Linked DNA regions of Homo sapiens. The protein of the gene in region 2 interacts with the protein of the main gene of each other region in a biochemical or structural test. Each region holds a gene or a part of one and is shown on either strand. Other genes may lie near its edges. The genes, in order: PLXNB1, MAGI1, CCDC134, OR8G1, SLC15A2, KIDINS220 and ZSCAN30.

Evidence for each region.
Region 1: the proteins of MAGI1 (region 2) and PLXNB1 interact in a test that uses a peptide from one of them, tested with the Homo sapiens proteins (one large-scale study listed by IntAct).
Region 3: the proteins of MAGI1 (region 2) and CCDC134 interact in a test that uses a peptide from one of them, tested with the Homo sapiens proteins (one large-scale study listed by IntAct).
Region 4: the proteins of MAGI1 (region 2) and OR8G1 interact in a test that uses a peptide from one of them, tested with the Homo sapiens proteins (one large-scale study listed by IntAct).
Region 5: the proteins of MAGI1 (region 2) and SLC15A2 interact in a test that uses a peptide from one of them, tested with the Homo sapiens proteins (one large-scale study listed by IntAct).
Region 6: the proteins of MAGI1 (region 2) and KIDINS220 interact in a test that uses a peptide from one of them, tested with the Homo sapiens proteins (one large-scale study listed by IntAct).
Region 7: the proteins of MAGI1 (region 2) and ZSCAN30 interact in a test that uses a peptide from one of them, tested with the Homo sapiens proteins (one large-scale study listed by IntAct).

Annotation. Positions count from the first base shown.
Region 1 is NC_000003.12:48,409,587-48,413,086, forward strand, and holds part of PLXNB1 (plexin-B1 precursor), read right to left. Parts: coding exon 3,483-3,500; intron 3,374-3,482; coding exon 3,156-3,373; intron 3,035-3,155; coding exon 2,856-3,034; intron 2,719-2,855; coding exon 2,652-2,718; intron 2,424-2,651; coding exon 2,277-2,423; intron 1,451-2,276; coding exon 1,282-1,450; intron 973-1,281; coding exon 869-972; intron 798-868; coding exon of another isoform or gene 795-797; coding exon 710-794; intron 492-709; coding exon 319-491; intron 146-318; coding exon 1-145. UniProt on the Homo sapiens protein: Receptor for SEMA4D. Plays a role in GABAergic synapse development. Mediates SEMA4A- and SEMA4D-dependent inhibitory synapse development. Plays a role in RHOA activation and subsequent changes of the actin cytoskeleton.
Region 2 is NC_000003.12:65,353,026-65,356,918, forward strand, and holds the end of MAGI1 (membrane-associated guanylate kinase, WW and PDZ domain-containing protein 1), read right to left. Parts: coding exon 3,353-3,893; 3' UTR 501-3,352; downstream 1-500. UniProt on the Homo sapiens protein: Plays a role in coupling actin fibers to cell junctions in endothelial cells, via its interaction with AMOTL2 and CDH5. May regulate acid-induced ASIC3 currents by modulating its expression at the cell surface.
Region 3 is NC_000022.11:41,807,179-41,810,678, reverse strand, and holds part of CCDC134 (coiled-coil domain-containing protein 134 isoform 1 precursor), read right to left. Parts: intron 1,805-3,500; 5' UTR 1,789-1,804; coding exon 1,686-1,788; intron 801-1,685; coding exon 679-800; intron 473-678; coding exon 388-472; intron 1-387. UniProt on the Homo sapiens protein: Molecular adapter required to prevent protein hyperglycosylation of HSP90B1: during translation, associates with nascent HSP90B1 and the STT3A catalytic component of the OST-A complex and tethers them to a specialized translocon that forms a microenvironment for HSP90B1 folding.
Region 4 is NC_000011.10:124,239,818-124,243,894, reverse strand, and holds the start of OR8G1 (olfactory receptor 8G1), read right to left. Parts: upstream 2,801-4,077; 5' UTR 2,531-2,800; intron 1-2,530. UniProt on the Homo sapiens protein: Odorant receptor.
Region 5 is NC_000003.12:121,921,901-121,925,400, reverse strand, and holds part of SLC15A2 (solute carrier family 15 member 2), read right to left. Parts: intron 3,182-3,500; coding exon 3,099-3,181; intron 2,627-3,098; coding exon 2,540-2,626; intron 2,362-2,539; coding exon 2,272-2,361; intron 2,180-2,271; coding exon 2,135-2,179; intron 1,051-2,134; coding exon 1,018-1,050; intron 457-1,017; coding exon 368-456; intron 1-367. UniProt on the Homo sapiens protein: Proton-coupled amino-acid transporter that transports oligopeptides of 2 to 4 amino acids with a preference for dipeptides. Transports neutral and anionic dipeptides with a proton to peptide stoichiometry of 2:1 or 3:1.
Region 6 is NC_000002.12:8,729,614-8,733,113, forward strand, and holds part of KIDINS220 (kinase D-interacting substrate of 220 kDa), read right to left. Parts: intron 2,370-3,500; coding exon 1,107-2,369; 3' UTR 1-1,106. UniProt on the Homo sapiens protein: Promotes a prolonged MAP-kinase signaling by neurotrophins through activation of a Rap1-dependent mechanism. Provides a docking site for the CRKL-C3G complex, resulting in Rap1-dependent sustained ERK activation.
Region 7 is NC_000018.10:35,280,230-35,283,729, forward strand, and holds part of ZSCAN30 (zinc finger and SCAN domain-containing protein 30), read right to left. Parts: intron 1-3,500. UniProt on the Homo sapiens protein: May be involved in transcriptional regulation.

The DNA.
Region 1 (3,500 bases), about 17 Mb from region 2:
TGTGGATGGTGTCCTGGTCGGAGATGCCATGCTGCTGGGCCTGCTCATCCAGCAGGTCAAAGAAGTACTTCACAGCGAGCGGCACGGGGCGGCTGGTGCTGAGAATCACCTGGAACAGGTCATCCACGAACTTCTGCAGGGTGCCCTGTGGGAAGGAAGAAGCAGAGAGGTGTGGTCAGCAAAGGGCCCTCAGCAGCAGCCCAGCCTCAGACACCCCCCGGCACTGTGCCTGCACGAGCCCCACACCACCCCCAAATCCCACGAGTGGCCATGCTCCCTCTCAGCCCAGGCCCCACTACCTTGGCAGCCCCACCCCACCTTCATGGACAGCAGGCGGGTCAGGTAGATCTCAGGGATGGCCTTGGCGCGCTCACGCTCCCCGCCCCGAAGGCTGCCCCTCCGAGGCCTGGGCGGCTCCGGCTCATCACTTGGCTTCACCAGGTGCCAGGGCCGGATGCCCCCCTCATCTACATCCTCCAGCATTGGGGTCCCTGTGCCAAGAGCCCACAGCTGTCACCCCTCCCCAGGTGCCACCTCCCCAGGCCCCCTGTTTCTTGCCAGCTCTCCCAGGGGTGGGGGCACCTGGTTGAGGGATTTCCTGGGCCGAATGGAAATAGGCACAAGCCTGCCCTGAGGCCCAGAGGACCTTCCCCATGACTCCGGGCTGGGCACAGCAGGGGCAGAGGACCGTGATGGGAGCGGTACTCACGCTCTCCAGGGACATAATCCTGGTTTTCCCGGAGCACATGCTTGGTGAGGCAGGGGACGAGGGCCACAGTTGCTCCATCTGGGACCTGCTGAGCACAGCTGGTGATCCCTCCACCAGTCCCACCCCACCATGCCCTCCTCCAGCTCCCACTCCTCCTACCTTGTAATGCTGCAGTGTGTTCAGGCGCCTCCACAGACCCTGGACCTCAGAAGTGACATCCTCGTCAGAAAGAATGAGGTGCCCGGCCACCCCAGACCGCCACTCTGCAAGGGCAAGGCAGAACTGGGTGCAGGGCTGGAAGATACCCTTCCCATAGTGGAGCCCATCTCCTCCTCCACAGGGACACCAGCCCCTCCATCATGGGGCAGCCTTACTCAACCTCTCCAAAGACCAAGAGCAGGGACCCCCTCCCCAGATGAGAGGCTGTCCAAGAAAGATGTTCCAAAGCCAGCTTCTGCCTGCCTCCCAGCATCCTCCCCACCCTGAGTGATGAGTTGTCCCTGCAGAGTTGGTCCGGGGCCAGCCCAGGCCCAACAGTGGCTCAGGTCCCCAGGGGCTCTCCACGCCCTCACCAACATCAAGGGTGCGAGGGTCTGGCCGCTGGGTGAGAGGCACTCCTTTATAAAGCTGGTCCAGCATCTTCTCCTTTGCCTGGGAGATGGTGTCACAGTCTAGGACCTTCACGGGCACGCCCTGGGCCTCTCCTGCCCCAGGCCCCACAGCCAATAGTGCATTCAAGGTCTGTGCAGGACACACAGGAGCCATCAGGGTTCATGTGCACTCAGGATGACCAAGACACAGGCCAAGGGCAGAGACAACTCATGAGAAACTGCTGCCTCCAATCCCCACGCACCACACAATCCCTAATTCTCGTCTCTTCACCTGCCTGCCTTCCCCAGGGACAGCAGCTTCCTCCCCATTGTGACCCCAGCACCTAGCGCAGTGCACTTGTAAACCACTATGGGGTAAATGGCAGAAAAAAATGAGTGAGCACAAGTCCCTCATCACTCAGATCCCCAGGTTCCTGGCTGAATGGGTCAGGCTGACGGAGTTTCGGGAAGCCTGCATTCCCACCATCGGGAGCAAATATTCCCACCTATCCGACAGGGGAGGGGTTCAGCAGGCCTGAATGGGGGTTTCCCACAGGAACCCTTGTGCGTAACTAAGGGGAAAGCAAACCCAGAGAGAAGTGCCTGCCAGAGTGAGGCTGGCTTGGTGGGCAAGGCCGCATTCCTGGTAGGAGGGCCAGGCAGACAGGGTCAGGCCCTGACACAGCTCAAGCCCATGGTCTAAGGTAGGGCTGGCTTCTCCCAAACCCTGGTTGTGGCTACCCTAGTTCCATCCCTAGCCTGGGGCACATAGAGGCCTTATCATCAAAGTCTGCCCTAAACTGCTATCCTGCTAAGCTAGTCTGATGGGCTCTCTCCAGGAGCCAGCCAGAGGTCAACCCAGCTCTACATCCAGGTACCACATCAGAAGCTGGTGTCCAGACCCCACACACCCACACACTCTCCACCCTCGCCCTCACCGCACTCAGACTGCAGGCCACACACTTGCACACCCTCACCAGGGGACGGTACTCCACATCCTCTCTGAGCAGGCGGTTGTCGTTCAAGGTGTATTTGGCCTTGCCTGTCACACTGTCCACTGGCCCCTTATCCACTTGGTGCTTAATCCCTCGAAAGAGCATGTACAGAGGCTCCCCTACGGAGTCCTAGGAGAGCACAGGCAGTTAGGGCCCCCCAGCAGGTGGCAGAGGTGTATGGGACATGACGCACACTGGGGAAGGGGACAGGACATGGGCTTAAGGGGACTGAGGACAGGCTGAGCAGGAGTCTCTGCTCTGGCACAAGTGTCCGAGCTGCATGGTGGCTGAGGGCTTAGAAGTTTGGAGGGCCTGACCCTCCCTGGACAGGAGCCCTGTCCACCTCTGCCCCCTCACCCTCACGAAGGTATACAGACAGATGGACATCCAGTTGGTGAGCAGCTTCTCCACCACAGTCTCTGTCCTGAGATGATGGGAAAGGGGAGTGCCAGGGTCAGCAGGTGGGGCTGCGGGCCTCTCTATCCTGCAGACCCCCCAGCCCGAGGCCCCACCCCAGCTCCAGCTGTCCAGGGCCCACCCAGCCCCAACAGCCACACAGACCTGCGCAGCATCAGCTTGGGGTTCTTGGCCACATACTGGGCAACCAGGTCACTGAGCAGAGTGCGGAGGATGTCAGTGAAATACTCAAGCTTCCCATGCAGTGCCACGGTGAGCAGAGATGCCACGTAGGCACGGTCCCGAGCTGAAAAGGTGCGCTGGCTCTCCAGCGTGTGGATGAACTGCAGCCAAAGAGAAGGGATGGGAAAAGGGGTTTAGGGGGACAGAGGGGCGGGCTCAGAAACCATGCCCTGGAGAAGGGGCAGGGCCAGGGGCAGGCCAGGAAGATGCAGCTGGGGGTACCTTGGTGAGGAAGAGCTTGCTGTTGAGCAGGTTAGAGAGCTGCCCCAGCCCTTGCTCCACAGTGGGCCGTCTGCTCTCAGGCACACCCAGGTCCCGGTGCAAGGGCGACTCGCGGTGCCCAGGGAAGAAGATCCTCTCCGCATACACCTTGTAGTCGAGGAAGGGGATGCCGCTGCCCAGGAGGTCACTGGTGAGATCGGTCATCTCAGTCATGAGGTCTGTTAAGCAGAAGAGGCCAGGTTAAGCACCTGTTAAGCACCAATCCCGTGTGATGGGAGTGGGTTTGGGCAGAGTTCTGGAGGGCGGGGCCCATTCTCTCAGCCACACCTGTGAATTCCTTCTTGC
Region 2 (3,893 bases):
ACTGAGGACTCTTCTGATTGCCAAAGATGTGTATCTATTCTTAGCTCTGTGAAGTATGTCCTTTTACAGATGAGGAAATGGAGGCTTCAGAGGAGGTTAAGGAATGTGCCCAAGAATCACACCAGAAGTGATGAAGCTCTTAGCTTGGCAGGATTTGTTTTATTATCAGGGTTCTGTGCTATACTGTGCTGTGCTGTTTAAACTTTCATGTGCATAAGGCATAGCTGAGGATCTTATTAACTGTACATTCTGACTCAGTAGGTCTGGAGTAGGGCTGAGAATCTGCATTTCTAACAAGCTCCTCAGTGATGATGAGGCAGCTGGTCCACAGACCACACTTTGAGTAGCAAGGCACTATGCTATTGCAATGGCATAGATCCTGCTCTTTCAACACAACGGCATTTCATCAAGTTGGAGTCAGGGGCCCTCAATTGATTACTTGACCCTGATACATTTGAGACAACATAGAGACAAGGAAGATATCAATCCAGAAGCAATAGTGGTTGTGGAATGCATACATTTCCATGTATTTTTACAGTAAAAATGCATTAAAAAATCTTTCACAAAAGAAACTTAAAAAATACAATTAGGGTGTTGAGTCCTCCCCCCCAACATTCTTTCAGGCATCAACTGTGTAACGGAGGGAGACAAATTCCTAAATCGTTTGATTTCATCATACAAAATACTCATCCATTATCTCTCATCAAGACATTTACATTAAGTGGGGGAGGGGGGCGGCGGGATTAAGGAAAGTAGGCTCACAAGAATCAGTTTCCAATTTAAGGTTACAGCAGTTCAAAGAAAACTATATCTTTCTGCATAATGCATAGTCCCTGTACAGTACAATATTTCCAAACAAATCTGATGTGTGGAATTCAGGTGAAACTGCCACACCAAAAAGTCCACGGATTGAGACAAGCCCAGGTGGGTAGCACATAGATTTTAAATTGCCAAATATCATCTTACAACAAGAAGGACATCAAGATGTTAACTTCAGGATATATTCCCAAAATCCACCTTGATTTCATTTATTTAAAACTCTGGATCACAATTGAGAGCATCAGTCATTTAACATCACAGATTTTGTTAGAACTAGTGAGAAGAATCCTAGCAGTGGAGCCCTGGGAATAAAATCTCCAAGTCAGCTCTTAGGAACTTGATGAAAAAGAACATCATTATTCAGTTGTACTCTTCCTCAGCCTTACTACAGCTCAATGTATGCTTTGTATGGAAAACTTTAATAATAAAAATAGCATTCACAGACTTTTCCCTCCTTTTTAGCTACAGAATGTATATTGTGTCTGTTCCAGGAAAGGAACTTGTTTTATAAATGTCCACACAACTACAGCTACTCATTCTAATGTTATGTATAAACCCATAAGTCAAATAAAGCTATGAACAATGTAATATTTATATATGCATAGTGTTTTATAAAAAGATTGGCCCACATACTGCTTTTCATCAATACAGAAAGAGCATTAAGTCCATAGCACACTGCAAGAAATAAATGAGTGAAGAACAGAGAATGCAAACAAGTGCTTAATAATTCACAAGCAGGCTCACCATGGAGGAAATGATGATATTCAAACCAACTAAAGCTTTAGAGAATTACTTATATAGTCTCCCATTTTAAAACAACTTTACATACCTGATTTAGTTTACATTAAAATATATCCCCATGAATCAATTTGTTCCATATTCAGAAATATAAACACGTATCACATTCCTCACAGCTAAATTTTGTCATAAATTCTCTTTTATACAAGAAAAAAAGGCAACAGTTGTTTTCTTTTTTTTCCCAACAGGCTCTATTAATTACAATTTTTAGCTCTGTACACGCAATGATTGGCTGGTTTTCTTTTTTTTTTTCTTTTTCCTTTTTTTTTTTCTTACAGTACCATGGGAACAACAGTGATTGACTTGCAAAGTTTTCTGTCTCTATGGAAAATGCAAAACAGTACTACAGAAATACACAATGCACTGTAAGCAGCGGTTTGCTGTAGTGGTCCAACAGGTACAAGCAAACATTTTGGCTCAGCTAGGCAGTAATCCACTTAAACCACATCCCGGGGCTACGGCCGACCCAACCACAGCTCCTGTGGGATCAAAAAGAATGGGTCTGTTTAAAAATAAAAATTGTTATGTTTTGTGCTGCTGTCCAAAGGACTCAAAGGACAGAGTCATGAGGCAGAAGTTTCCCAACCAGACCTAGAATCACTGGGACCACTTCCTTCCTTTCCCTTCTACCAACCTAGAGACTTGGACTATGGTTTCAAAGTGAAATTGGCATTTCTAACAATGAATACCCACAGCCCTCACTTCTTTAAATATCAACAGAGAGGTTCCTTCCACCAAGGCTCATTGCCTCCTCCCCAGTTTGGCAAAGGGCAACCATGGGCTTCTACTAAAAGGGAGGGGGGCATGCTTTCCAAATTGGGGATCTTACGTCTTCCTCACACCAGGCACACTGTCCCCCCATTCCATCTACTATTCAGCCTCCAATCAGACGAGACAACACGAAAGATGCTTGTTGTCTCTTCCTCGTAGTAATTGAGCAAAGCTGTGATGGCATTGCCTTCAATGAGATTTTATCAGATGTTGGTGATGATCACGAACCTGACTGTCTGTGCTTGGGCTGTATTTGAGTAAAAGTGGCCGACATTTTTGTCTGTGTGCCTTCCTGGGCCAGGGAGAGTACAAACTGTTTTCTGAACCAACTATAACTCACAATATAAAACTTCTTTGTGCTGCGCAGTTTAGCTATAAATATCCTTCATTTGCAATAGTAGTCTTGTCATACAGTTTGCTTACTTTTAGGATCATCGGCAAACCTAATCCATCCCCAAGGGTCCTCAGCTTTTACAAATAAAACTTTGCATTTTTGCTCTTTGCTTTTAAGAAAAACTTCCGACTACAGTATAGCACTACATCACTACATGACAGTCTATATCAAATTAATTAAACTTAATCAATAAATTCCCTTACGTAGAGAAAATGATCAACAGCCCCATTTAACCAGGAGAGAAAAAGATTGCCCCAAAACGGGAACAATTCTTGACGATTCTACAGGTTACGTAGAAACAAAATTTATATCCCTTTGGGCCAGCATTTGGCAAATAATTTCCAAAAAAGTATGCATTTAAAAATACTTTCTTTAATATGATACATCAGGCACAATACTTTTCATATATATTTTTTCTTATAAGATTTCAAATGCATAAAATGTTTGTTGTTATTCATAGGATCATCAGGTGTCAGATGCTTCATTAGGTAAGAAACTAAATAATTTCAGGTTTGTGACTTTCCTCTTAGAACCTTTGACACGGTAAAGGTTGGAATGTGACTCAGCGTCTCAGATACTGAGGTCGGTGCTACATTCTTTGTAAGGTCGCCTTCTCTGCTCCGGGGGATGTCTGGAACTTCTGCCGGCATCCTGTTTCAGATTCGCCTCTTCCCTTTCTCGGTGGCTGGCTCTGTCCTCTCTGTTCCTTTTGTCCAGGGACCGCTCTCTCCTGCGCTCGGGGGAGCGTGCGCGCCTCCGGTCGGTGGACTTGGCCCTGCGCTCGGGCGAGCCCCCTCTCCTGCGCTCGGGGGACCTCCTCTGCTCCAGGAGTCTCTCCAGAGACCGTCTCCGCCGGCTGGGGGAGCCGTCTCTCCTGCGGGTGGGTGACCGCTCTCGCCTCCGCTCCGGAGAGACGTCTCGTCTCTTCTCGTGCTTCTCCCTCCTCTCCAAAGTGTTGTCGGCGCTGCGGGTGCCCTCCCTCCGCTTCTCTGGGGACCGCCTCTTGGGGCCGTTGGCGGCTGCCGCGCGCTCGGCCTGCGCGTCCCTCCGTCCCTCCGGCGCCCGGTCCTTGGGTCGGCATGCCCCGCTGTCGGGTTTCCTCGAAGTCCCA
Region 3 (3,500 bases), on a different chromosome or scaffold from region 2:
ATTAAGAATACAAAAACTAGCTGGGTGTGGCGGCATGTGCCTGTAGTCCCAGCTACTTGGGAGGCTGAGGCAGGAGAATCACTTGTACGCGGGAAGTGGAGGTTGCAGTGAGCCGAGATCACACCACTGTACTCCAGCCTGGCGACAGAGTGAGACTCTGTCTCAAAAAAAAAAAAAAAAAAAAAAAAAGAAATGCTATTGCTAAAAAGTAGCCAGTTAATTAGGGAGGCCACTCACGAAACGCCCATCTGCCCAAGGGGACCACTTAGAAGGTGCCACAAGAGGGCACTTCCGGGGAGAAAAAAAGAGTGACAAGAACAGGAGAGAAGGAGCAGCTAGAGAAGATCGGGTGGTGCGGAGGACAGGGCGGGGCAGGGCAGACCATACCATCCTTCAGCTTCTCGTCCTGGGGGAAGGGCCCATCTGGGAGCACATCAGCAGCGGTGAGCACTGTCCGGGAGTCCTCCAGCACCTGAGGGAATCCCGCCAGGGCTGAGTGGCTTCGCAGTGCCCATCACAGACTGCTCCCATCCCCATTTATTTAAACCCCACTTCAAGTCTTACGTGTGCGCAGTTCCCCTGTCCCTGAACACCAACCCGTTAGGGAACTCCTGTTTACCCATCAGTGCCTAGATCAAAGACTGGACCTGCCATGAGCTGCCCCCTGCCTGCACACACCTTAAAGAGCCCCTTGAGCATGACATCAAGGATCTTGTACTGCTGGTGGATGTCGTTCAGCTGTGCCAGGTTCTTCAGTGCCAACAGCTGCTCCCGCCGCTTCACCTCAAACATCTTCTTGTCTGGGCAGAATTAAGTTAAGGGGCTGGCATCAATAGCCCTGCCTGGACAATCCAGCAGTCTTGCCTCAGAAGGCTCATTCCTGACCAGCAAGTATCTGCAAGGGCCATGGACACCCAGGGCTAGAAGCCTCCAGGAAATGAACAAACTGACAAGTGCATGGACCTGCAACGCACTATTCATCCAGTTCCCATGGCGCTCCACACCCAGAAGCCTGAAACCAAGCCTCCAGACCTGGCTCCTGCCTTCCCTTTGCTGTGGTCTTCCTGCCGTCTCCACAAGCATTCTACTGTTCCAGAGCCTCCACCTCTCTGCTCGCGCTGCACCCTCTCTGCCCAGGATGCCCCTCACCCTCCTCTAGGAGTTTCTTTCCTTTCAAGGCCTGGCTCAAAAACCATCACACAGTGTTTCTCCCTGACCCCTCCTGTGCCCATCAGAGCACTGGTCACAGAGTAACATGATCATTTGTTTGGATACTTTCTCCCCCTGGGCTTATGGACACCTCAAAGCCAGGGGACTTGTTGTAATTCATCTTCGTGTCCTTGAGGCCTGGCCTGGAGCAGGTGGCCCAGTTCACCAGGGTCCAGATGGGCCAGTAATCCAGAATTCCTGAGTCTCCACCCAGGATCTTGCCCACAAGGTGCCAGGCCATGCACAGTCCTCACTGAGCCTTTGCAGTCTAGAGATGGGCCTTGTCATCTCCATTTACCATACGCGGAAGCTGAAGCTCCGGAGAGACCTGACTTGCTCAAGGTCTGGCTAGAGCACCTCACCTTTTCTCCCTGTTCCCGCCAGCTGGGCCTGCTTATCCCTGGAATCCCTGAGTAGAAGAACCTCATTTATAGACCTCTCAAAGACAGCTCATTAACTACAACCCCAAAGGATACAGATCTCCAGGCTTGGGTCCAGGGAGGTCCTCAAGGTGCCTGTGGCTCCCATCCCAGACAAAAGCAGGACAAAGAGGAAGGCCAGGAATTGAAGAAGGTCCATATCCAAACCTCTTGAGCTGGAAGAATAACCCAAAGAAAGAGAGTGAGACTCAGAGATCGGTGTTACATAAAATAGAGTGCACAGGTGAACAGCAGCTTCCCCCGACATAGTGCAGCCTCTGTATACCAAGAACCCAGCTTTGGGGAGCCCTGAAGCTGCAGCTCTTATCCCAGGGCCAGCAGGCACACAATACAGAGCCGTGGGATGCTAGGAGGTGGGGAGAAAGATAAGTGTGTGTAACACAGGAACACTTAGAGCACAGGGTCAGTGGCTAGAGCTCTAGGCTGGAGCCCTGCCCCCGCCCGTCTCTGGGACCTCGAGCAGCTTGCCCAGCCTTTCTGAGCCTCAGCCTTCTCAGCTGTAGAACAGGGATAAGGAGGTCACCTCCCTGCTGCAGGGAGGGAGGTCTGGGTGAGGCACTGTGCCTGGGGAGGAGGGGCTCGTCAACAGTATTCCTTCCACATCCCCTATCCTGGTCTCCCAGGAAAGCATCTGGTCAAGGAAGCCCAGGCAGAGAAGATATGAAACTTCTGGAGTTTTCCTCCTTCCTTGACTTTTGTCATCAGAAAGTAAGAAGGGACAAAGGGCAGGGAGGAAGGCAGGGCAGTCTCGGGGTAAGGGGGCTTGCTACTCACTCACTTTGGAACCATAGGTACTACATAGAATACCTGTTCATATTCAGGCAACATGCAACAATTATTTATTTATTTTAATTTAATTTTTTTTTTTTAAGATGGAGTTTCACTCTTGTTGCTCAGGCTGGAGTGGAATGGCGCAATCTCGGCTCACTGCAACCTCCACCTCCCGGGTTCAAGCGATTCTCCTGCCTCGGCCTCCTGAGTAGCTGGGATTACACGCATGCGCCACCATGCCCAGCTAATTCTGTATTTTCAGTAGAGACGGGGTTTCTCCATATTGGCCAGGCTGGTCTCGAACTCCCAACCTCAGGTGATCCGCCTGCCTTGTCCTCCCAAAGTGCTGGGATTCAGATGTGAGCCACCGCGCCCGGCCCTTTTTATTTATTTTTTCCTTAGTAGAGATGAGGTCTTGCTATATTGCCCAGGCTGGTCTCCAACTCCTGAGCTCAAGAGATCCTCTCGCCCCAGCCTCCCAAATACTGGGATTACAGGCGTGAGCCACTATGCCCAGCCAACACAATTATTTATTGAGCACTGTGAAGTTCACTTTCCTGGTGATTCCCAGGACATACATTGCTGCCTTCCACCCTTCCTCTTTCTCCCCTTGAAAGGATGCATCTTTTCACTTGGCTGGGGTGGTAATTCTCTTAAATGTTTTTTGTTAGTTCCTGTAATTTTTTTTTTTTTTTTTGAGACAGGGTCCTGCTCTGCTGCCCAGGCTGGAGTGCAGTGGCACAGTCATGGCTCATTGCAGCCTCCACTTCCCAGGCTCAAGCCATCCTCCCACCTCAGCCTCCTGAATAGCTGGCACTACAGGTGCATGCCGCCATGCACGGCTATTTTTTGTATTTTTCTTAGACGTGGGTTTTGCTACATTGCCCAGGCTAGTCTTGAACTCCTGGGCTCAAGTGATCCACCCATCTTGGCCTCCCAAAGTACTGGGATACAGGTGTGAGTCACTGCACCCGGCTACTATAGCTTTTTTCTCTGGTTCTAACTCTGCTGTTACGGCCTGACACTCAAATATTCTGTCTTGAGGGCCTAGAAAAACAATGTTTTCCTCTAGTATAACTT
Region 4 (4,077 bases), on a different chromosome or scaffold from region 2:
AGGTTTGTTACATAGATATACATGTGCCATGGTGGTTTGCTGCACCTATTCTAGCTCGCTCTTTTATTCAGCCATCATTACTGAGAGACAAGGGGTCGAATACTGACCCGAAGCCAAAATGCATGAAAAGTAAAATGACACATTCCCTGCTTTAATAGAACTCTCAATCTAATTCTATCCTGTTAACAATGTTTTCAATAATTTAGTTAAGATTAAAATGGAAATGAGTGATCATTTAATGTACAGATAAAATAAAACTGGAAGAAATAGCCAATACAATGAATACGTGAATTGATTGTTTATACAACCCAACAGGACTGTGTTAAGAAGAAGAGAAATACTGTTGTAGAGACTTGATACTAAGTCTAATATTCACCATAATAAGGGATGATGTGTCAATTATTTCAATAACTGAAGTAAAGTTAGAGAGGCATGCAACTTTTGAATGGTTTCCCGAACGAATTCAGAGCTATTCTGTTATATATACATTTAAAAATGTATTTTCTATTATTTATGTGTCCTCATGTGATCACTATAGGATCAATATGAGGCTCTGAAAAATACTTTACATGTACACAAAATATAGTCTTCTGTTAATACAAGAACAAATAAAAAATATAGGGCTCCTGGTCTATTATGTTTACTCCTGCGTGTTAAAAATTGGGTATATATGACAGTAGCAATAAAAGGTCTGACCAAAGCCAGCTAAGTAGGGTTATAAATTATATAATATCAAAGAATAAGGTAAGGTCACTGAACATCATGAATATCAAAAGCATTTTTCTCTACTTTTTTAGTCATTTACGTTTTTGATTACTTTAATTGTAATCATCATAGTAGGGATTACAGCTGGGAAGAGTTCTATGGAATTAAACTGTGAAACTTTCTTTTTGTGAGTTATACATGGATTTGGGAATTGACAATTCCCCATGGTATGGTCTACACACACCCTTTGGTTAACAATATTCCCAAGTTACTGTAACTTCAGTCCTAAAATATTATGACAACCAGCAAAATGTGGTTGGTTCTAGACACTGAAAATAGCTAAAAAAAACAAGCTAAAATTGAGTGAGAAAAATACTTAACTTCCAGTCTTAGTTTAAATGATTAATTCTTTATGTACAACATATCTGGTTTGAATACAATTCATAAGAAAACATAAAAGTGTACTTCTGTATTAACTAAATGAAGTCCATAGAATAGTGGATGATGGATAAAGCAAGGGGAGATTCAGATTTCATTTATAAAAAAAATAATGGCTAGACTATGATGACTAGCAATCCATGTAAGATCTGTAACATAGCTTCCAACTCATATGCCATGGAACTGAAATGTAGGGAAAGGTTCATAATGGTTCAGAGGTATTGGTCTGTAGCCCTCGGGTTCTCACAGATAAGACTGTGGCATTCAGAGCCAGTTCACTGGTCACCATCAGCCACAAGCTTTCTCATCCAGTAACTTCATTATGCCATATTAATATGACCATCTTCTATGTGCTCATGAGGTTAGAAAGCACCATTCCACACTTATCATATTACACCTGGAGTCCATCGTTTTCCAATGGATATATTTTTAAAAGAAAGACATTGATAAGATGGAAGGCACACAAAAGCTGTCAAGAGCTTGGGAAATATTTGCAGGCAATGAGATAATTAGTGAGCATTTTCATGTATCCTAAGAAGAGCAAGGATAAGCTTTAATTTTGTGTGTGGCATTTGAAAGATTTATGAATACATCTTTTAATAAATGTAACTAACCTGCACAGTGTGCACATGTACCCTAAAACTTAAAGTATAATAATAATAAAAATATATAAATAATTTACTACTGAAAAAAAATAAAAATAAATGTAAAGGAAAATATTCTAGTATTTGAGTTCTTAGAAGTTGAATGAGCTACTTATTCCTGGTCATAAAATACACTGGACCAGAAATCAGATGATGATTCACTTTCAGGGACACTGATGAACAGGTTGCCTTAATTACACTTAGGATAAAGTACACAGATTCATGCTATCTCTTGTCCCTCTTCACTTTTAGTTCCTGTGATCCTCCTCCTTGGCTACAGGAACACTTCGCTTCTTTCAGTTCCTAGAGTCTGTCACATTCACTGAGCCTTTTCATTAGCTATTTCTTTTACATTAGATAGTCTTACCAACACCTGTCTTTCTGATGTCTGGTAAATATTTACTTTTCAAATCTCATTTAAAATGAAGTCATCATGTAAATATTGTCCAGTTTATTGTAATTAAGTTGATCTTCCTACTGTAAGCTCCAAAAACTCTGATTTCCAGACAGCACATTTTCTTTGACTGAGTTATTCTATAAGCCCAGTGATGGACCCGAGCTATTCTCCTCTGTATCTCTAGTAACTAGCAAAGTGGCTGGCCCACTGAAGAGGGTTTAAAAGAGCATTTCATAAATAATTGAATAAGTAAAGATAATGAGGAATAATAGTTTCCTGATTTTTTGCAAAGATTATTTCCAGATCTAATAGTCTCAAATCACAAGTGATGGATGAAAACACTCACCTTTCCACTGCCTAAAAACTTCAATGCTTGATTTTACTTGCAATTTCCTCTTCCTGACATGGAGAATGTTGGCTTGGAATGTTCTCTTCCTGACATGGCATTAATGTTGGTGTTGAGAGTCATAGACACCCAGCATTCTGGAATCTTTAGTGTTGAGAGGGCAGGGCCCAGCCCTCAGTCTCAGAGTCACTTTGAAGCTGGTCTGCATCACAGGTCAGTATTTCTAATTATGACTTTGCAGTTTTTGTTTCTCCAGCTTCAGGGTGGCAAGCATCCTCACCTGAGCAGCTCTGATTGCTGTGCTATAAAGGCTTGCCCTGGGTTAAGATATGCGAGGTACCAAAAAACATGGAGACAAATACTCTCCCGGGATTTCCATTTCTCAGGGACCAAATTCTTGGAAAAAACCAGCAATTACACTTGACATTTCCCCAGTTGTCTAATTTTCCTGTAAACGAATTCCCTGTCAATTTTAAAATTGTCAATTGGTGGTAAATATTTGTGCACAAGGATTATCTCTGCTAAAATGCAGATTCTAATGCAATAGGTCTGAGTGGAGCTTGAAATTCTGCATTTCTTACATGCTTCTAATGTAATTTAGTTCACAGCACACACTGTGATTAATATACTTGAGAGGACTAGGCACATCCTGACAAGTTATCTTGTACTGATAATAAAGTTAAAAACTTTAAAATAACACACTTTTTATTTCCTTGCAAATAGACATATTTAGTTTTAATTTGTGTGTAAATAGGTAATTTATATAGTTGACTGAAAATTCAAATCTGTTTATAATTGTATTTCAGGAAGCATGGTGTAATAATTTAGGGATTGATATAATACTTAATTTTTGAGTTTCTTTGTTGATTTAAATTCTGCCTCCTAATTTTTATAACTGAAGAAAGTATTTAAGTTTTGGAGAAGTTAGTTTCCATATAAGTCCATATAAGTGCCCCACTTCTTACTTTTTATGGTTTTTCACTTTCTTCAAAATAAAATTAGATGAAATTTTATATTGAATGTGCATCAAATAAATGAAGGAATTGAAAAAGACTATATGGGAAGTTACATATTAGAAGCTCTGAAAAATCGTACAAAACACTAGGTTTGATTGTCTTTAAAGAGAATGAAGTAGGTCTAGATCAGTGATTTTACTATGGCTGCACATTTAAAATCAACAAGGAGTTTTTTTTCATAATCTCATCCTAGATTACAGCCCATGGCACATTGGACAATAAGCAGGCAGCACAAATTAGAATAGTAAAAGGCAAAGCAGTGGGCATACTGGAGTGTACAATCACAACACACACGTGGGTCTGCAACTTTGACTCTAAAGTTTTGAATAGGTTTCTGAAGTAAAAAAAAAAAATAATGGAAGAAATAAGGAAGACAAGTTTAGTTAGTTGAATCGGGCAGAAAAGAGACTGCTGCAGGCTAACATTGTGCAAAAACTAGAGATTACAACTAACACATTGTCATGATTTCTGTTATTTTTTGAATGGAAAGAATAAATGAGGTTGGTATCACTGTTGGAAGATGATATTTCC
Region 5 (3,500 bases), about 57 Mb from region 2:
TTTAAAGGGATTAGTAGTCATCAAAGGCCTTGAGTTTCTTTGAAGAGACAACATTCAAGAACAAAGAAGAAAGTTGGTTTAGGAGCTAAATTTCACATATTTTTGGTTTGGCATGAAACCTAGACCTGCCCCTCCACCACCATTACACAGTTAAGTCCACAGTAATGGCTTTGACTCTCATTAATTATATCTAATTCACATTTTTCAGGGTCAATAGGCAGTTAGTCTAACATGGAAAAATAGAAGCAGATAGATGATAAACTAAAACCAATCCTCACTAAGAAAAATACTGACATTGAATCTTTTTCAAACTGGGCAAAGACTGAGTCAATTTAGAGTAATCCATACAGACATAGTGAACACTTACGAGAAGTTAATTCCACACTTGGAGACCAGACGATAAATGACAAAGTCAAACAACGGGATGAAGATAAGAACCAGAAGGGGATTTAGAACCTGTAACACCATGATAAAAAGGATTAGCTACAAATATTCTCCTATCATGAGTGTGAGCACTGCACTCATTTGCTTGTTTACACTCTGTCTCACATCTACACACACTTTTGTCATTGTAAGTACAGAATGACTCCACATTCCTCAGTCCATTTACACCCAAGACCCTATTTCCCTTGCATAGCATTTTAGCTTTCAAATATCCCAAGGGACAAGTTTCACTCTGAGCCTGTCTTTCTGCCAGCCTTATTGTGAGCTCTTTCCTCTCATGACTTCATTGCTCACAAAATAAGCCTTACAATTTCTTTTACAAGATTTTGATTATACTATCTTGACTTGGAAAAAAATCCAATGCTTACACTTAACCCGTTGCAAGTTAAGTACTTAACAGGGGATGTGAAGGAGAAGGGTGGGGCTTAATGGGAATGTTTTCATGTCGAAGCTTGGCCCTTATCAGCGTACAAGGAGAAAAGCATCAAATTATGGTTGTTAATCGTAATACTGCAGGTGGAGGCATAGATAAGGAAACAAATAAGTCCCCATGGCTATAGAAGAGTCACATACCTGCATCTGGTCCGGCTGAAGCACAAAAAACCCCTGAAACATTTTAACAAATTAATTTAGTTGATGTCTGAAGAAAAGAAAAAAAAATGTTGGCCTAGATCAATAATTTTGCTAGTTAGCAAGTGAGAAACATATGAGAGAAAATTCATCAGGTCTTTGGTTCAGGGCCACTATTTTGCTGTTAAGATTATTTGGGGGATGGGAACAGACTTGGGAAAGCTTCTGGCTATGTTTGCCAGGCAGATGGGCCTAAGGGAGAAATTATTTTCTATGTATTATGCTTTCCTTAACTTGAAAGAGAATAGAGTCAGTGCATTTTTATTGATCTCAGCAACTGCAGTTCTAGGTTGTAATAATATGAAGGGCAAGACATCATGGTTAGGGTGAAGACTCTCCCTGACACATAGTGTTTCCAAAGTTGTTCTCCAGAGGGTCAACAAGAAGACCACCATGGTAAATAAGAGACAGCCAGAGGAAGGGAAAAGGTAAAATTATATTTTGCAGGCTCCAAATAGACTGACTAATAAGACCCTGGTATCATTCTACTCTGTCTTTTCAAAAACTGAGAAGATAGAAAAATAATACACTAATCTAGGAAAAGAACAATTGAGAGTAGAGATGGTACCTTATTTGAGTGGGCTAAAGAATGGAGTTTGGAAAAAGAGAAAATAATACGTATAACCTTCTCATTCTTTCCATATCCATACATACAAAATATTCCATTTCCCACAGGTCCCCTGCTGTGATCCTTGTTGAAGAGATAGACCAATTGCGTAGTAGTGCCACTCAAACCTGTCCCTGCTGTACTCTGGGATAGGCTTAGACAGAAGAAAATCACTATCCCAGGTTACGCATCACATCATTTGCTAGCCTCTCAATACTTCCTTGTATACATTGAAACTTTCTCATCCTTATGTTCCTGATTTCTAAAGAGAAGATTCTGGTTTTTATTTCTAAACTAGCTTTCTTTATCTTTGCCTACACGGTACCTTCAGGCTAAAAGCACTTCTCTGAAGATCTTGTTAGTTTTCAGGCAAAATCACAAAGAAATTAATTTTTCCCCAATATGGATGATGAAGAAAATAATAGACTTCTCTGGAAAATCTCTTCTACTCACCAAATTCCTATTCATCCTGATGGCTTGCAAAGTCCATCGTGAACCCTAGGGCAAACAGATCCTGTTATGAGAAATCCCTTTCCTGTGAGAGGGAAGTGGCTGTAAGGAGCGGTAATGTCCAAAAGAACTATTCTTACCTGCTGATCCAAAAGAGCCCAGAACATGGGCAATGGGATATAAAGGAATAGTACCCTGGTCAGTGCCTTTACATCCATAATGAGCTGCTTCTGCGAAAAGGAGGAAGAATGGGCAGAAATGCTAGAAGTTCTGTACATGGCTTTCTTGCTTAAAGTAGAAGTGTCCAAAAAACAGTAGAGAGGAGGTTGAATGCAGTAGGATAGAATCATTTTGAACATTAGGAAAGACTCTATCAAGCCATAAGATGTTTCTGCATTTCCAACTTACTGGATATTTCTCAGCCGCCCAGTCTAGCCAGTGCTGTCGCTTTGGAATGTCTCCAGAACGGTTCTTGAAACGATTGGAAATAGCAAACTAGGGCAGAGAGTAGACATCATGGGAGAGACAAAGAGAAAAACATCCTCTGCCTTTTCCAACTTATTATACCTTCCTTCAAACACCATACTTCTAGTGACTTATTCCAACTCTTTGACCTAATCAGGCATTGAATTTCAGAATATTTCTGATATAATTTTATCTATCACTTTAAGAAAGAACTTGCCATTCAAAACAAAAAATAACAACAAAAAAGAAAAAATGTTATCTGTCTATATATAATTACATTTCAGAAGATTTTTGCCAACTTAAAAAGATGATTACTTTTTTTAACTTAATGGTTAAGTAGAGGCATAAGAAGAAGACTGGTTAATCTTAGCTTGTTAAAAAACATGAAAATAGAATAGAGGTCATTGAGAAAAATGTATGCCCACGTTTGAAGGCCCATATTCTCAGCATAGCATCTCTTTCTTTTGATTGAAAAAGGCAAGAAAACAATTTATGGACTTACCCAGATACATTTGAAAACTTGAGCCACTATGTTTCCTTCAGGGGGTGGTTTATTGTATATTTTGCTTCCCATTGCAAACACAACTGCAGTTGATACACAAACAAGGTTCTTAGCTTCTCATTTATTAGGTTGGTGCAAAGGTTATTGCAGTTTTGCCATTACTTTCAATGGCAAAAACCACAATAACTTTTGCACAAACCTAAATAGCACATTCAGTATATCAGCGCTAAGGACAGAATGCTGAACTGTGGGAGTGGCTGGCAAATCTCATAAAGAGGGAGCTGACTTACATTTCCTGACTTTTGGAGTTATCAAAATTGCAGGAGCCAAGAGAAGACAAAATGGTATGTTGTTAAGAGAGATATCTATTGAGACTTTCATGTAATCACAGAAGTGGAAGTC
Region 6 (3,500 bases), on a different chromosome or scaffold from region 2:
GTTACATGTTTCCAAATTTTTTTTTAAAAAGTATTTCCTTTCTTATGATCCTTCCCCAGAACTAACATGCTGACTTAGGAACAGATGAAGTAGATAAAGTCTATCCTAGTATAGAGAGCAATGATTTAGTTTTACCTAATTAAATATTTCCTTGTCATTTATCAATTGTCACTGACCTTTTTGATGTAATTATTTCCTCATTCACTCATCTATAAATATTTATTAGTACCTATTATTACCCATGTCTCCCTGATTTTCCAGAAAAAGAATTCATGTTTTTTTTTCTTCTCATTGCTAAGCTCACTTAGAAAAGTTGGGCACCATTTAAAAGAGTTGGAGAACAGACCAGGGTGGCTTCTTGGGCACAGCTGGATGGTGCTGGAAGCCAGGCCTGGGATTTGGAGAGAAGAGTTTCCGACATATAAACCCACGGAGGTCACCAGCCCTCCCCGCATCTACTCTCCTAACAGCTCAGGACAGCCCCGTCACACTACTGCCAGCCCTGGTGACTCACTTTGTTGGCAATTTTTAAAGCCCTCTTCATTATGTACTTCCTACTCTTCAGAACCTCTGTGATAAGCAATACCCCTGCCATACAGAACGCTGGATCTCGGTTTACTCAGCCTCTCCCTGTAGCGTCACAGGCTGTGCACTCACCTAGGTGAGCCCCTAAGAGCAGGGTTTGCTTCTGCTTCACCTAACGCCACGTCTTCCCTCAAATGTGTGGTCACCAAATGTTTGCAAAAAGGGTCTCTAGCTTTTTTTCTTTTTGGCACATTAAGCCCTTTAAAATACTTCTGACCTATCTTTATACTCAGATCTCACCTCGTCTCAAAAAGTTTTATGGGGTAATGCGCCAATGAAAGGTACAGTAGTATTAGTGAGTTCTGAAGCTTCTAATTACAAAGACCACAGAGGCTGGCTGGTGAGCCATGCTTCTCATGCTCCCTTCTGTCACACTGCAGATGTCTCTTTTACCTCGGCCTCATCATCGGTTAGTTATCTGTCAGCAAAATGTAGAAAGGTGATGGGCGTGGATGGAGTCAAAATCCAGGACAATTCTGTCATAAAGGTACAGTAACACTCTTCTCCTTTGCTTGTTTTTCTCAAAGAATGCTTTCTCTTTCTTCTCCAAAGCCTGTGCTCTCAGAAGAGGCTGCTGCATGGAGCTCCGGAGGATCTTTGGAGAGCCTTGTGTAACTTGAACGTTGGCTTCGCTTATGTGTCATGCTTTTTAGATTCTCATTCTGAATAGTGGTTGGGTTGGGACTGGAACTAGGCCTCAAAATGACTTGAGAAGTCTCCCTAATTCCCTCCATCTCATCGAAATTTTGATTGGCTCTGTTGGCTGGAGCACTATTGTTGTTCAGAGTCACGGTGCTGGGAGTTCGGTTCAGGTTGTAGGCTTTCTGGCATGCAGGCCAGTTTTCTTCAGGGCTGCTGGCTATCAAGCTGCATTCGGAAGGGCTTTTCTTGTCTTCTGAACAAATGGACATCCGAGCTATAATTGGATCTTGCAGGCCACTCAGGCTATGTGGGATTCCCCGCTTTCCGCTGTGACTGTCATCTTCCAGCTCTATGAGATTTGCCTTTTCAAGCTGGGAGTCATCCGCCACTTCATTGTGCAGAGAGTGATTGGGAGAACTTTCACTGGATCTCACTCCTGAATCCGATGAATCCTTTTTGTCAAGGAGCGCATCCGATAAATACTCTTTGGCTTTAATGAAGGTTCTGATCGGCTCAGCACTGTGTTCTGGAGACTTCGGCACTCTCTCTACTTTCCCTTCGGCTTTTCTGTCTTTGTCATCTTTGAGCAGTGGAGTGTTATCTGATTCTTCTGTGCCAGATTCATCCTCGTCACTTGGGAGTTTTTGATAGCGCAGCCCACTTCCCTTAAGCTTCAAATCTGTCTGGAAGAGGCTTGACCTTTCGGAAGATTTCTTGCCTGGGAGAAGCTTACTGCCTGACTGATCTGATTTTTCATCTTCTTCAGTGATAGGATCCAGGGGGGAAGCATCGTTGGTGGAAACCCCTGATGATGAATAATCGATAACATCTCCCCTCTTCATTAGAAAGGACTTCCTCCCATCATCGGGCTTTGGTTCACTATCCTTCCCCTTTTCTTGCTCTAGGTTTGAATGAATAGAGCCCCCTGATGAACTCTGACCCATGTAATATGTGCTATGTGGAGAAGATCTGCCACTAATGGTTGTAGACCCGGGGCCCCCTTCTAACTGGGACATCTGAGCAATGTATTCTCTATAGGCATCTCTATACTCGGCCTGCACCTTATCAGTAAGCTTTGAAATTTCAATACTGGAATCCTGGGAATTGAGACTCGAAAGACTTGGGGTTCTGCGAGTTTGTGACTGTGAAGACAGAAAAAAAATAATTTAAAAATTCAAATAAGAAGAAAAAAGGCATAAACATCAGCTTAGGAAATATATATGTACACTAACCATTTAAAAAGTCATCAAAACATCAAATTCTTTTAAAAGAATTCTACATAACACAGATTAACAAAAGCTGTGACCTTATAATGCTGTTACTAGAAAGCTTTCTATAAATTTTAATAAAATCAGTTTATTGTTAATATTTAAAAGTATGATTAAACACTGTATTAACAAATAATCTTAGCACTTGTTTCTGGTTTTTATTTCATTTTTAAGAGACAGGATCTTGCTGTGTTGCCCAGGCTAGATTCAAACTACTGGACTCAAGCAATCCTCCCGCCTCAGCCTCCTGAGCAGCTGGGACTATGGGCATGTCCCACATGCTCGGCCACAGCACTTGTTTTTATAACTTCAAACGTTTAGCTTTTATTTAAGGCCAAAGTCAACTTCATTGATAAAATATAAAATGCAATGAGGCCAATAGTTGGGCCTTAGTAAACAGAAAAATAAAGTAGTTTTACAAGTTTATTTCCAATATTAAGTTTTAGAATTAGAATTTGCTTCAGATCCCAGAATAGCTAAGAAACAAGGAGCAAAAAGTACAGATGAGGAAAAAGAAGGAGAAGAATCAAGAAAGTTTAAGAAGGGTCAAGAGCAAAGGCTAAAACAAAAAAGAAGGAGCAAAGTGAATTTGTTGGGGACCTTCTCAAGGAAATAGGACATTTTCTTCCTTCCCCAAGGCGCTGCTCCTCCTCACCGCTGCCCTGCCCTGCCCACTCAGTGTTACTCGCTGCCGCCCGCTGTGCCTCCTCCCCCGTTGTTCTCCACACCCTGCTCTGCTTTTCCTCCTGCGCTCTCCTCACTCCCGCTACTCCTCCTGCATCTCTCACTTTGCTCTGTCCCTGCCCCTACCCCTACCCCTCACCTGGCCTCCTTCTTCTAAGAATCTCCAAAGGAAGAACGCGCCTACATCTAATGCCAGACCAGAAGAAACCAATATCCGTGAAGGGTGTGCAGGCGTCCTGGAAAACCAAAGGATGGTGCTCAAAGGGACACTATGTGGCCAGTGTTCCAATGAAGATGTACTTCAACCAACAGTTACTGAAT
Region 7 (3,500 bases), on a different chromosome or scaffold from region 2:
CACACCACTGCACTCCGGCCTGGGTGACACAGTGATACTTTGTCTCAAAAAAAAAAAAAAAATAGAGAGGAGAGAGACAGAGAAGGCAACCACCATTTATAAAAAGAGAGAGAGAGGCAGAGAGAGAGACATAGAAGGCAAGCAACACTTACTGAAAAAAAAGAAAGAAAACACACACATACACACACACACACAAAACACCATGACTTGGCTTTCAGTTATTTAACAGATAAAGATTTTTCAAGGTGATGCCAATGACCTTACTGATAAAAAACAAAGGGAATTATCTGACCTGAACTCAACTTTAAAGATCTTGGGGAATTATAGTATTTCTTGATACAAGGCCAGTCACTTCTGTCAAAGTGAACCTTGGGAACTGTGATTACACTGGCCATTATTTTCTTTTCTGAATCAGAGTTTTCAGCACTGGTTCTGAGTTTTAGGAAGTCAGTGTCAACTGGACATGCACACTGACATGTCAAAGATGTCTTATTACCCATAATTTAAAGATCTTATTCACAACAAACATGTTAATACTTGTTAATATTTATTTGAGCAGCAGCCTACTTGTTAATATGAGCAAAAGGCAAGTTAATTTTTAATGTGGCTTCACAATTTTGATTTATTTCCTTTTTTTCCCCAGAACTGGAAATTGATTTTTAAATTGAAATCCCTTCCTTGTGAAAATTGTTTACACAGTCTAAGTATCAAAGAAAATTAATTTCCAATACAATACATGATAAGCAAAAGTCCACATGTAGGTCTTTATGTTCATTTATCTGAGGAAGAAGTCTGCAGTTTTCATCCTTTTCTCAAATAAATTTACTATCTCAAAAAGATTGAGAATCACTGCTCTAGAGCGTATGCCTAAGTTAGACATATATTAGTACACATGTTAGTTTGACCTAGTTTCCCCCAAGTGAAATGAGAAATAGAATTCAGGTAGAATATTGGTGGTGGCCTATCAGTTTCATTCTTGAGAATTTTATATCACTTCCCATGCCTGTATTATCACTGCTAATCTCTCTGGAAACCCTTCAATTCCATTTACTTCATTGAGAGGAACTTCTTCAGTGTCAGCTGATATGGACCATAGTTGGCTCAGATTTGTTTTGGCCAGTCCAACAAACAAACTCCAGGTTAGCTCATCAAACTCACACACAGAAAGCAACATCTCTGGCAACACTCCACAAAGCTACAAATCTAACATAATCTGAAAGAATGGTTTGGCTTCCTTGGTCAAACACCCAAAAAAATCTACATTCATATCATCACTTTTGGGTAAAAGGTTAACAAAACACTTTACCTTTGTACATGAGAATTAACCTTTGGTTAATTTTCTCATTCTGTTTTATTGAAAACTTATTAATAGGTCAATTATGTTACCCAACAATATTGTTTATGGTAAAAATGTTTCCTGATTACCAAAAGAATTATAAATGAACTATAAATATTGACTATGCTAATGGATACTATAACTTTGGGCCTCCCTGAGTATAGTGACTCTTGTAATTGGCATGTCTCTTACAGAAATTCTAGAAGCTATGTCCATGGAGTTGCTATAAGACATATTAGCTCCTGTGGAAGTTTCTAATCCAGATGCATCCCACAGGTTCCCAATGTAAGTCTCATCTCCTTGCATCTGAGCTGTCAACTTGGAATGGGAAGGCCAAAAAAAAAAAAAAACCCTGCATGCTTGTGTAAAATACTGTGAGTACCACTACCACCGAAGAGGGGTAGGTGCTGCCTACTGGTCAGCTGTGGCTTCTGTCCTATCCTTCTAAGTTAATCTGATGCCAAGGGTGATCTGCAGTAGTCTTGAAGGTCTAAAAGTCTAGTTGAATTCAAGAAGAACATTCTGGTGGGCAATGATATACACCCAGCTTCTTTTGGAAACTACTTGAAAATTTATGTTTCTTCCTTCTCTCATCTTATCATCTAACACAATATGTGTTAATAGTTAACTTTATATGTCAGTATTTAAGTTATAGGATATGAAAGAAGGAGGGTTATCATCTGGGAGCAGAATGAATGCCATTCATGGACCAACAAAAAGACTATTTTCCTCTTTTGGGAAATGGTTAGCATGTTAATAGTTATGTGATAGTAGTGTTATGTAAGGTGAAAGCACAACTTCATTGTTATCATAATTTGGAGAATTAAAGTATGGCTTAAAGAAACATGTATGGTACTAAGTTGACAAGGGGCAGACCATGATGCTTTTATAATGTGTCATCTTGCTTAAAGTGCACCAGTTTTCCTAGAATTATTTATTTTATGTTTACAGTTTGGGCGGGCCAAAAAGGCAATTTTTGGGAGATGTGTAATGTGGAAAGGAAATAGTAGCCATTTGTAGTTCACATATGTTGTTGCTGACTGGTGACTCACTTTGTTGACTCATTTTGTAGCAGCTTGGCCTGCAACTACTCTACCATCCTCTAGATCCTCCTTCAGCTTCTCCAACTCCTGGCCTATGTATGTGTGTTTATGACAAACAGCCCCAGCTTCTGAAGGATACCCTCACCACCAAGGTCAAAGGCAACAAGAACTAACATGGATTTCAGTCCATTTTCATGAGGTTCAAGTTTGTACTTGTGACTTCCAGCCTGACCTTGACTTCTCCCACTTTACTTCCATCTTCCTTTCTGACTACTCTGCCAACATCAAATTCTAGCATCAGACACAACAGCATTATAAGAGTGCCTAACTAGCTCTCATAATTGTGTAAGCCAATTCTCTTTAACAAATCCATATGTACATATACATATATTCAATTACTTGTTTTGTGTCTCTGGTTGAACACTGACTGATATATCAGGGATAAAGAAGGTCATTTCATTATGAAAAAGGAGTCAATCAAGAGGCATAACAGGCTGGGCATGGTAGGCCACACCTGAAATCCCAGCACTTTGGAAGGCTGAGGCAGGCGGATCACCTGAAGTCAGGAGTTTGAGACCAGCCTGGTCAACATGGTGAGACCCCGTCTCTACTAAAAAAAAAAAAATACAAAAATTAGATAGATGTGGTGGCACGCACCTGTAGCCCCAGCTACACCAGAAGCTGAGGCACAAGAATAGCTTGAACCCAGGAGGTGGAGGTTGCAATGAGATGAGATCATGCCACTGTGTCACAGGATACTTGGGGTGTTGCTTTTCTAGTCAGAAACCTCTGTGGCCAGTGGTGCCTTTGCCTGAGTTTTGCTTGGGCCCACTGGGATCGTTCTGCCCACTCAGCCTGGCAGGCTGTGCTTGGCTAATGCTACCAGCCTGTATCTCGCCCCTGCCAAGGGTGAGCCAGGCGTGAAGTAGCAAGGGATGTGTGAGCGAAAGAGTGTGGGGTCTGGCCACTGCACACAGTCAGGCACGCTGGCTGCTGCAGCAGGGTGGGCAGCTCCAGGTGCCAGTACGGGCCCTGGCTCACTGCAAGGCTGTGACTGGACTAAGTACACCACAGTGGTGCCCAGAAGCTTGGAGACTCCAGGAAATGCAGGGCCCCAACGG